2 linked regions of the Homo sapiens genome follow. Changing the gene in region 1 together with any one later gene gives a genetic interaction. Each region holds a gene or a part of one and is shown in the gene's direction. Other genes may lie near its edges.

The links.
Region 2: changes in SKIC8 (region 1) and POLN together harm fitness more than expected from each alone (negative genetic interaction), as found in Homo sapiens cells (one large-scale study listed by BioGRID).

Annotation. Positions count from the first base shown.
Region 1 is NC_000015.10:78,289,610-78,293,109, reverse strand, and holds part of SKIC8 (superkiller complex protein 8), read left to right. Parts: intron 1-321; coding exon 322-494; intron 495-3,010; coding exon 3,011-3,159; intron 3,160-3,397; coding exon 3,398-3,491; intron 3,492-3,500. UniProt on the Homo sapiens protein: Component of the PAF1 complex (PAF1C) which has multiple functions during transcription by RNA polymerase II and is implicated in regulation of development and maintenance of embryonic stem cell pluripotency.
Region 2 is NC_000004.12:2,071,418-2,074,769, reverse strand, and holds the end of POLN (DNA polymerase nu), read left to right. Parts: intron 1-1,740; coding exon 1,741-1,802; intron 1,803-2,470; coding exon 2,471-2,656; 3' UTR 2,657-2,852; downstream 2,853-3,352. UniProt on the Homo sapiens protein: DNA polymerase with very low fidelity that catalyzes considerable misincorporation by inserting dTTP opposite a G template, and dGTP opposite a T template. Is the least accurate of the DNA polymerase A family (i.e. POLG, POLN and POLQ).

The DNA of each region.
Region 1 (3,500 bases):
CTGAACTCTCCAGTTGCAGTCCGGGAAATACTTTTTTCTAGGCAAGAAAGCAATAGCAATATGGTGGTATAAAACAGCAGCTTATTTTTCCCACTTGTTTTCCTGTTACTCTGTATTAAAGCCCTAAAGTTAAAAAAAAAAAATCTTAAAGTCCTACATTTAAAACCTGGCAGCATTTGGTGTTCTGTAGCTCATTAACTCTTCTCTGATTCTGTATTTCATAGACCATTGGTATTGCATAGTCACAGGGACCCAGAATTTCAGATGCCAGGTAAAGTGTGTTCTTTGTGAAGAAATCCATTTCTCTGTCCCCTGTTGAAGGCGTGATGAGAGGCTGGACCTACAGTGGAGTCTGGAGGGACATCAGCTGGGAGTGGTGTCTGTGGACATCAGCCACACCCTGCCCATTGCTGCATCCAGCTCTCTTGATGCTCATATTCGTCTTTGGGACTTGGAAAATGGCAAACAGATAAAGTCCATAGATGCAGGACCTGGTAAGAGTTTTACTTGTAGGGGAGATAATAGAGGTTCATGATTTCTTTTCCAAAATCTTTAGGGATAGAATGTGTTTTACAGCTCAGAATTTTTTGGATTTGAGAGGGGTGATAATGTGTGCATGAACTGTATTTCACATAATACCCTCAGTGGGGCTGGAAACAGCACTGTAATGAAAGACTAATACCTCTGCAAGTAAACATGAATGTTTACACTAAGGGAGATAAATAAAGGCTATAAATAGCCTTATGTCAATTCAGGTTAGATTTTGCTGCCAAATGAATTTTGGTAGTAAACCTGTAGAAAAAGCTTGTAGTTTCCAGAGCTTTTTGGATTTCAAAACTGCTGGTTTGGCGTTGACCTGTATTTTGCATTTTCCAGAGGTTCTTTATTTGCCATATTCTGAACTGATTCATTCACTGCCTTACGGAAACCTAGAATGTAAAGCATGGGGTCCTTATAGATCTGTATCATGGTCATCTCTACTAATTTTGATTAAAGGGTGTGATTCTTGGTATGTGATACATATGAAACTTTTAAGAAACATCAATTTTTTTTGTTTTAAGTACTGTAGAACAGCATAATCTTGTCCATCAGCCTCAGTAAACATCATCTGAGATGACAGAAATTAATGATGTCATAGGCTGACTAATGTGGAGCAGCAGAGGACATTTCAGGATTCTTTTGAACTTCACATTTACTTATAAATGGCTGCACAACATTCCCCAGCAGAACCTGCTCTGCCAGAATGGGTGGTAACTGCTAGAGGGTGCAGATAGCCTGGCATTTCTCTGGCACACCCCTTTTTGGGTTGATGATAGAAGAGCTGCTTAGGTGTTCCATGAACACAGTTCCCTTGATTGGTGCCCTGGATGGATTCGCCTCCCGCCAGTTATGCTCAGTAGCCACTCTAGGCTGTTCCTGTATTGGAAAGAATGATGGTCCCAGAGTTTTTAAAGAGGCTGGGTTGTCTGGAAACTGAGTGCATTTTCCCTCAGAAGCAATATTTCTTGTCTGTAATTCTTACCACTGGAGCTCTTTTAAGAATATGCCTGCCCAGTCCATATTTTGGATCCACTGAATCATAGTGTTCAGAGTACGTGGGGTGGGATATGTATTTGGAAAAAGCTACCCAGACGCACCCTGACTCCCCTGATGGTTGTCTTTACATGTACCCTTACCCTGCTTACATTACTTACAGAGGACTTGGGTCCCCAAACTATCCTGCAAAGTCTATTAAGACTCCAATATATAAGCATGGTCTTAAGAAAAGAGGAAGAGACAGAACTGTTTCTACCTTTTCATCTTGGGCGCCTAAGCTTTCCCTGGGCTCATAATGCTGGTGTTATTCCATGCTGGTTGTAGCCCTGGGCACAAGGCAGCTGAAGAAATCAGTGCTGGATTGGTTCCAAGTAAAAGGATGGCGTATGTATCTAGCTCACTTTCTCTGATAAACAGTACCTTTTACTGGATATTCTCCAAGTGTGGCAAAGTTTTAAAGGTTACTGTTATGAAAGAAAAAGAAGAGGCCAGGTGTGGTGGCTCACACCTGTAATCCCAACACTTTGTGGGGCTGAGGCGGGTGGATTACTTGAGGTCAGGAATTCAAGATCAGCCTGACCAATATGGTGAAACCCTGTCTCTACTAAAAAATACAAAAAATTAGCTGGACATGGTTGTGTGCACCTGTAGTCCCAGCTACTCAGGAAGCTGAGGCAAGAGAATAGCTTGAACTCGAGATTATGCCACCGTACTCCAGCCTAGGTGACAGAGCAAGACTCAATCTCAAAAAAAAAAAGGAAGAATGGGGTCTGAGAGTTGGATTTATTTTCTTTTTGGATAGGACTCTGCATAAAACTAGACCAGGCCATTAAACAGCCAACAGTTATTTGGTCCAGTAACAAAAGCAAGCATTGCTATTGACAGCTAAAGAGCAGCTAAATTCATCTGAAGGTAAAACTCCTTGGATGAATTTGGGTCTAATGAATGTAGGGAAAATAGACACTTAGTTTCTACCTATCTTGAAAATATGCATGGAGAATCTGAACCACCACACAGGAAGAGAAAAAGAGAAGAGAGACAATCCCCAGTCGTGGAGAAGTAAGGAAGTAGGAGGAAGCGAAGACCATGAGTGTACCAGTCTTTGTGTGGACATATGTTTTCATTAGGAGTAGAATTGCTGAGTATCATGGTAAGTGTTTGTTTTCACTTAAGAAACTGTCAAACTGGTTTTCAAAGTGGCTGTGCCGTTTTACATTCCCACCAGTGTATGAAGGCTCTGGTTTCTCCACATCCTTGCTAACACTTGATATTGTCCTATTTTAATTAAAAATTTAAGAAACCCTTAAACTAAATTTAAACTTGATAAAGAATTAGCATCTTTACAACATAATTTTCTGAATCAGGACACTGCTACTCCGATTTAAAAAGATGTATCCTTTGGTAAAACTTTAGTTTTTAAAATTAAGGCCAAGTCTTTTCACACTGTATTTTTGTCCTTCTTTTTTCTGTTCAGTGGATGCCTGGACTTTGGCCTTTTCTCCTGATTCCCAGTATCTGGCCACAGGAACTCATGTCGGGAAAGTGAACATTTTTGGTGTGGAAAGTGGGAAAAAGGAATATTCTTTGGACACGAGAGGAAAATTCATTCTTAGTATTGCATATGTAAGGAAACATTGCTCTCTGTTCTCCTTCTGATTCTTTCAGTTTACCCTTCCAGCCTGTTGCAGTCCTTGCCACAGATTCTGTCTTGGTCTGGTCAGGCAGCTGCTGTCTCACTGGTGTGGTTTGCCAAGTAGCCAGTTAGACCTGTAGATAGCAGGAGGTTTGCTTGTGTTTGGTAGGGACAGCTTAACAACACGGAGTCTGAAAGTGCTAATTTCTCCATATGTTCTCTGAACAGAGTCCTGATGGGAAATACCTAGCCAGTGGAGCCATAGATGGAATCATCAATATTTTTGATATTGCAACTGGAAAACTTCTGCATACCCTGGAAGGTATATATC
Region 2 (3,352 bases), on another chromosome or scaffold:
GCCAGGTCTGTAAACAGCCGGGGCAGCTTCACGTGTTGGGAGAAGAGGCACGGGGGCGTCAGGGCTGGAAGCTTCAGGCACCAACTCTCGAGTGGTGGTCGCCATGCCCTCCTAGCCCCACCCTCTCCAGGCCTTACCCTTAGGGGTGTGAGGCTCCCATCCCTGGGGCCCACCCAGACCACTCCATCCTAAAGCAGGGCTCTGCCACTTGAAAAGTATGTCCAGCCACTCATTTGAAAACACACCCACCTTACGTGACCATTTAACAAGTATAACGTGTGCTCAGCTGTAGGTTAAAAAAGGAAAGAAAACGTTCCCAAACGGCCTTGTTCCCGGGAGCAGCTTCCTCCAGCTGGCCTGGCAGCTCCTGAGGCAGGCTGCAGCCTGTGCTCTGCTCTCTCAGGAGCACTCGGGGCCAGGGACTGCAGGGCCTGGGGAACCAGGGGTCGGGCGGGGCCTGCACCATCCCTGAAGGGCTGGGGGTCAGGTCATATCTCCCAGGCGGTGTGTAGCGCCCAGCATCTCTGCCCTGCCTGCCCTCCCGAGGGCCCCACAGGGAGCGCTCCAGCTGAGTGCCAGCTCAGCCCCACGCTTGCTGCCCCTCTCTGAGCAGCAGTTGCTTGGGATCACCCGCTCAGTCAACAGCACCACCCCACCAGGCACAGAAGAGGGACCAGTTCTCTGCATACTCAGGGTAGCCCCAGCCAGCATGAGGAGCCAATGGTCCAGCTTGGCCTGGGCCGGCTCTCCAGCCTCGCCCCCATAAGAAGGTCCCCAGGGGGGCCCAGGTCCTTCTGCAGGGCTCCCCACCATGCACATGGGCCGTGTGCCCACCTGCTGGCCGACAGCTCCCTGCAGACGGTGACCGGCTCCTGCACAGAAGACATTGAGGGCCACAGAGCTTGGGTGGCCGCTGGCCCTGCTCAGGACACACCAGGGACAGGTCCCCAGGGAGACCCTCGCTCTGCTGGGGCCAGCAGGGCTGGAAAGTGAGGTGGCGCCCACCACGGCTTGGGGCTCCTGCCGCCATCTTTGCATTGCAGTGTCACACAGCACAAAAGGACTGAACGAATGTTTATCCAGGGGCTCCAGGTTTCAGAGCAAGCCCTGAGAAAGCCTGAGCTTGCGGGTCCCACCTCTGGCCCCTGCCCAGGCCTTCCCTTTCGTAGGGCTCTGAGCCCCACTGCTGCATGGTGATCCACGCCCCAACAACGGGGTCAGCCTGCCTGTGGCACAAAGCCACTGTTGCCTCAAACTTCACCGGGCAGTAGTGGGGATGGGGGGTTCTTGTGTGCCTGGTGGCTCTGGCTGGTGGGGGCTCCCTGTGCCTCCCCCATCCTCCCAGCCCCAGTGGCTCTGGAACAGAGCTGGCATGACGCCTGCCCCACCCCATGGCCCCCAGCTGGGGTGAGCTGAGCCGGAGGGGTAGGGGTGAGGGCCAGTGCAGTGTGGTGGGCCAGGCCAGGAGGAGGGGCTGCAGCGAGGGCCAAGGGGCCTGCGAGAGGCATCCTGGACTGTGGATGGGGCCGGGGGAGCTGGACTCAGCCTCAGGGGCTGGGCACTCAGGGGCTCCTTGTGGGCATTAAGGTCCCACAGCTGGTTCAGGTGACCGAGTGGACACAGGAAACAAGGGGGCTCAGGGGCCGGGGCAGGACTCGGGCCTGAAAGTTCTCTTATCTTCGGCTCCCAGGCCCCAAGGCCAAGAGACCAGCAGGGCCTCCTCTCTCTTCCGCACTCTAGCTCTCGTCAGGAGGACCATGGAGTCCTTGGAACAGGTGCAGGCATTGGAGCTGCAGCTTCAGGTGAGGGGACACTTAAGCCTGCCCGGTCTTCCGGAGCCCAGGGTGAGGGGAGGCCAGCACCCCCAGGGCAAAAGAGCCAGGCCAAAGGGTGCAGCCCCAGCCCCGAGATGGCCACTCCACAGCAGGCACAGCCGTGGAGGCTGGACCGTCCCTGAAGCCCGGGAAGCCCCACCCGACTCTGCTCACTTCAGTGAACAGGGACGGCAGCCGGGGCTGGACCCCTCCCTCCCTGTCAAGAGCTGTGAAGGCTTGGTCCACTCAAGGTCAGGGACCCCCGGGAGGGCTCTCCTGGCCTCTAGGAGCCACCAATCCTCCCGGGGGCAGGACCCTGAGGGGCAAGCACAGGATGCCCCAGGACACACCCACCCATCCAAGGGCACCTTGTCTGCCGGCCGCAGCCTACCCACTGGCACAGAGGCCCTGGCAGGTGGGGGAACCTCCGCCAAGATCGAGGTGTCGTGACTGGGAGGTGGATGTGGCATAAGCCTGTTGCTGGGCGAGTGTGGTGAGTGTGCACGTGTATGCACATGTGTGCGTGTGGCTGTCTGATCATGTATCTGGATGTGTGCACCTGTGTGCTGTAGGCCCTGTCCCCCTGCTTGGGGTCTGGGAGGTGGCTGGGGGTGGCTGGCCCAGGCGTGGGGCTCACCTCTGGCTGCCACCTGCAGGTACCCCTCAAGGTGAGCCTGAGTGCCGGCCGCTCATGGGGACACCTGGTGCCACTGCAGGAGGCCTGGGGCCCTCCGCCAGGCCCATGTCGCACTGAGTCTCCCAGCAACAGCCTGGCTGCCCCTGGGTCCCCTGCCAGCACCCAGCCCCCACCCCTGCATTTTTCGCCTTCATTTTGTCTGTAGCCCCAGGCAACAGTGGGAGGAGAGAACTGGTTTCCAGCAGTCCATTGTGTGGCCTTCCCCAAGGTCACCAGCTCTGTACGCCCCAGGACGCATTAACCCTTTGGGGCTGGGGTGGCCCGCCATCCCCTGGAGTAAATGCCTGTGCAAAGCCCTCCTCATCCTTGTCTGAGTGAATTCTTCCTGTGAGTGGGAAGTGCCGCGTCCACCACCCCCAGCCACTTGGCCGGGGCAGGGCTGAGTGCCCCCAGTTGGGAGTGACCCAGGCTGGGTCTGGGCCAGACACTCCAGACTGGGTAGGCACTCCCAGCTCCCTCTCCCATGGATTCCAGGGGAGGGGGCTGCCTCGTGGCTCAGCAGCTGCTCCCCCCGGCAGGTGTCCAAGAAGCCACCAGCTCTGACGCCCTATGGTGTCACCCCCTGCTGGCTCCCTTCGCTTTAGGAAGCCATGGCCCAGGGCGTGCACCGTCCTCCCAGGCCAGCCCAGCGTGCAGCCCTGTACTGAGATGGAGAGAACACAGCCTCCCCGCAGGCACTGAGGCCCCTAGAGCTTGTGTTCCCGACTGATGTGTCAGGAGGACCAGAGGAGCCCCTCTATGAGAAGACCTGGCCACCCACTGCAGGCCTCCCCCATGGATGCAGCCTAGGGGCCACCGAGGACCCGCGGGCGTCTGGGGTCACATGCTCTCAGGCCACAAG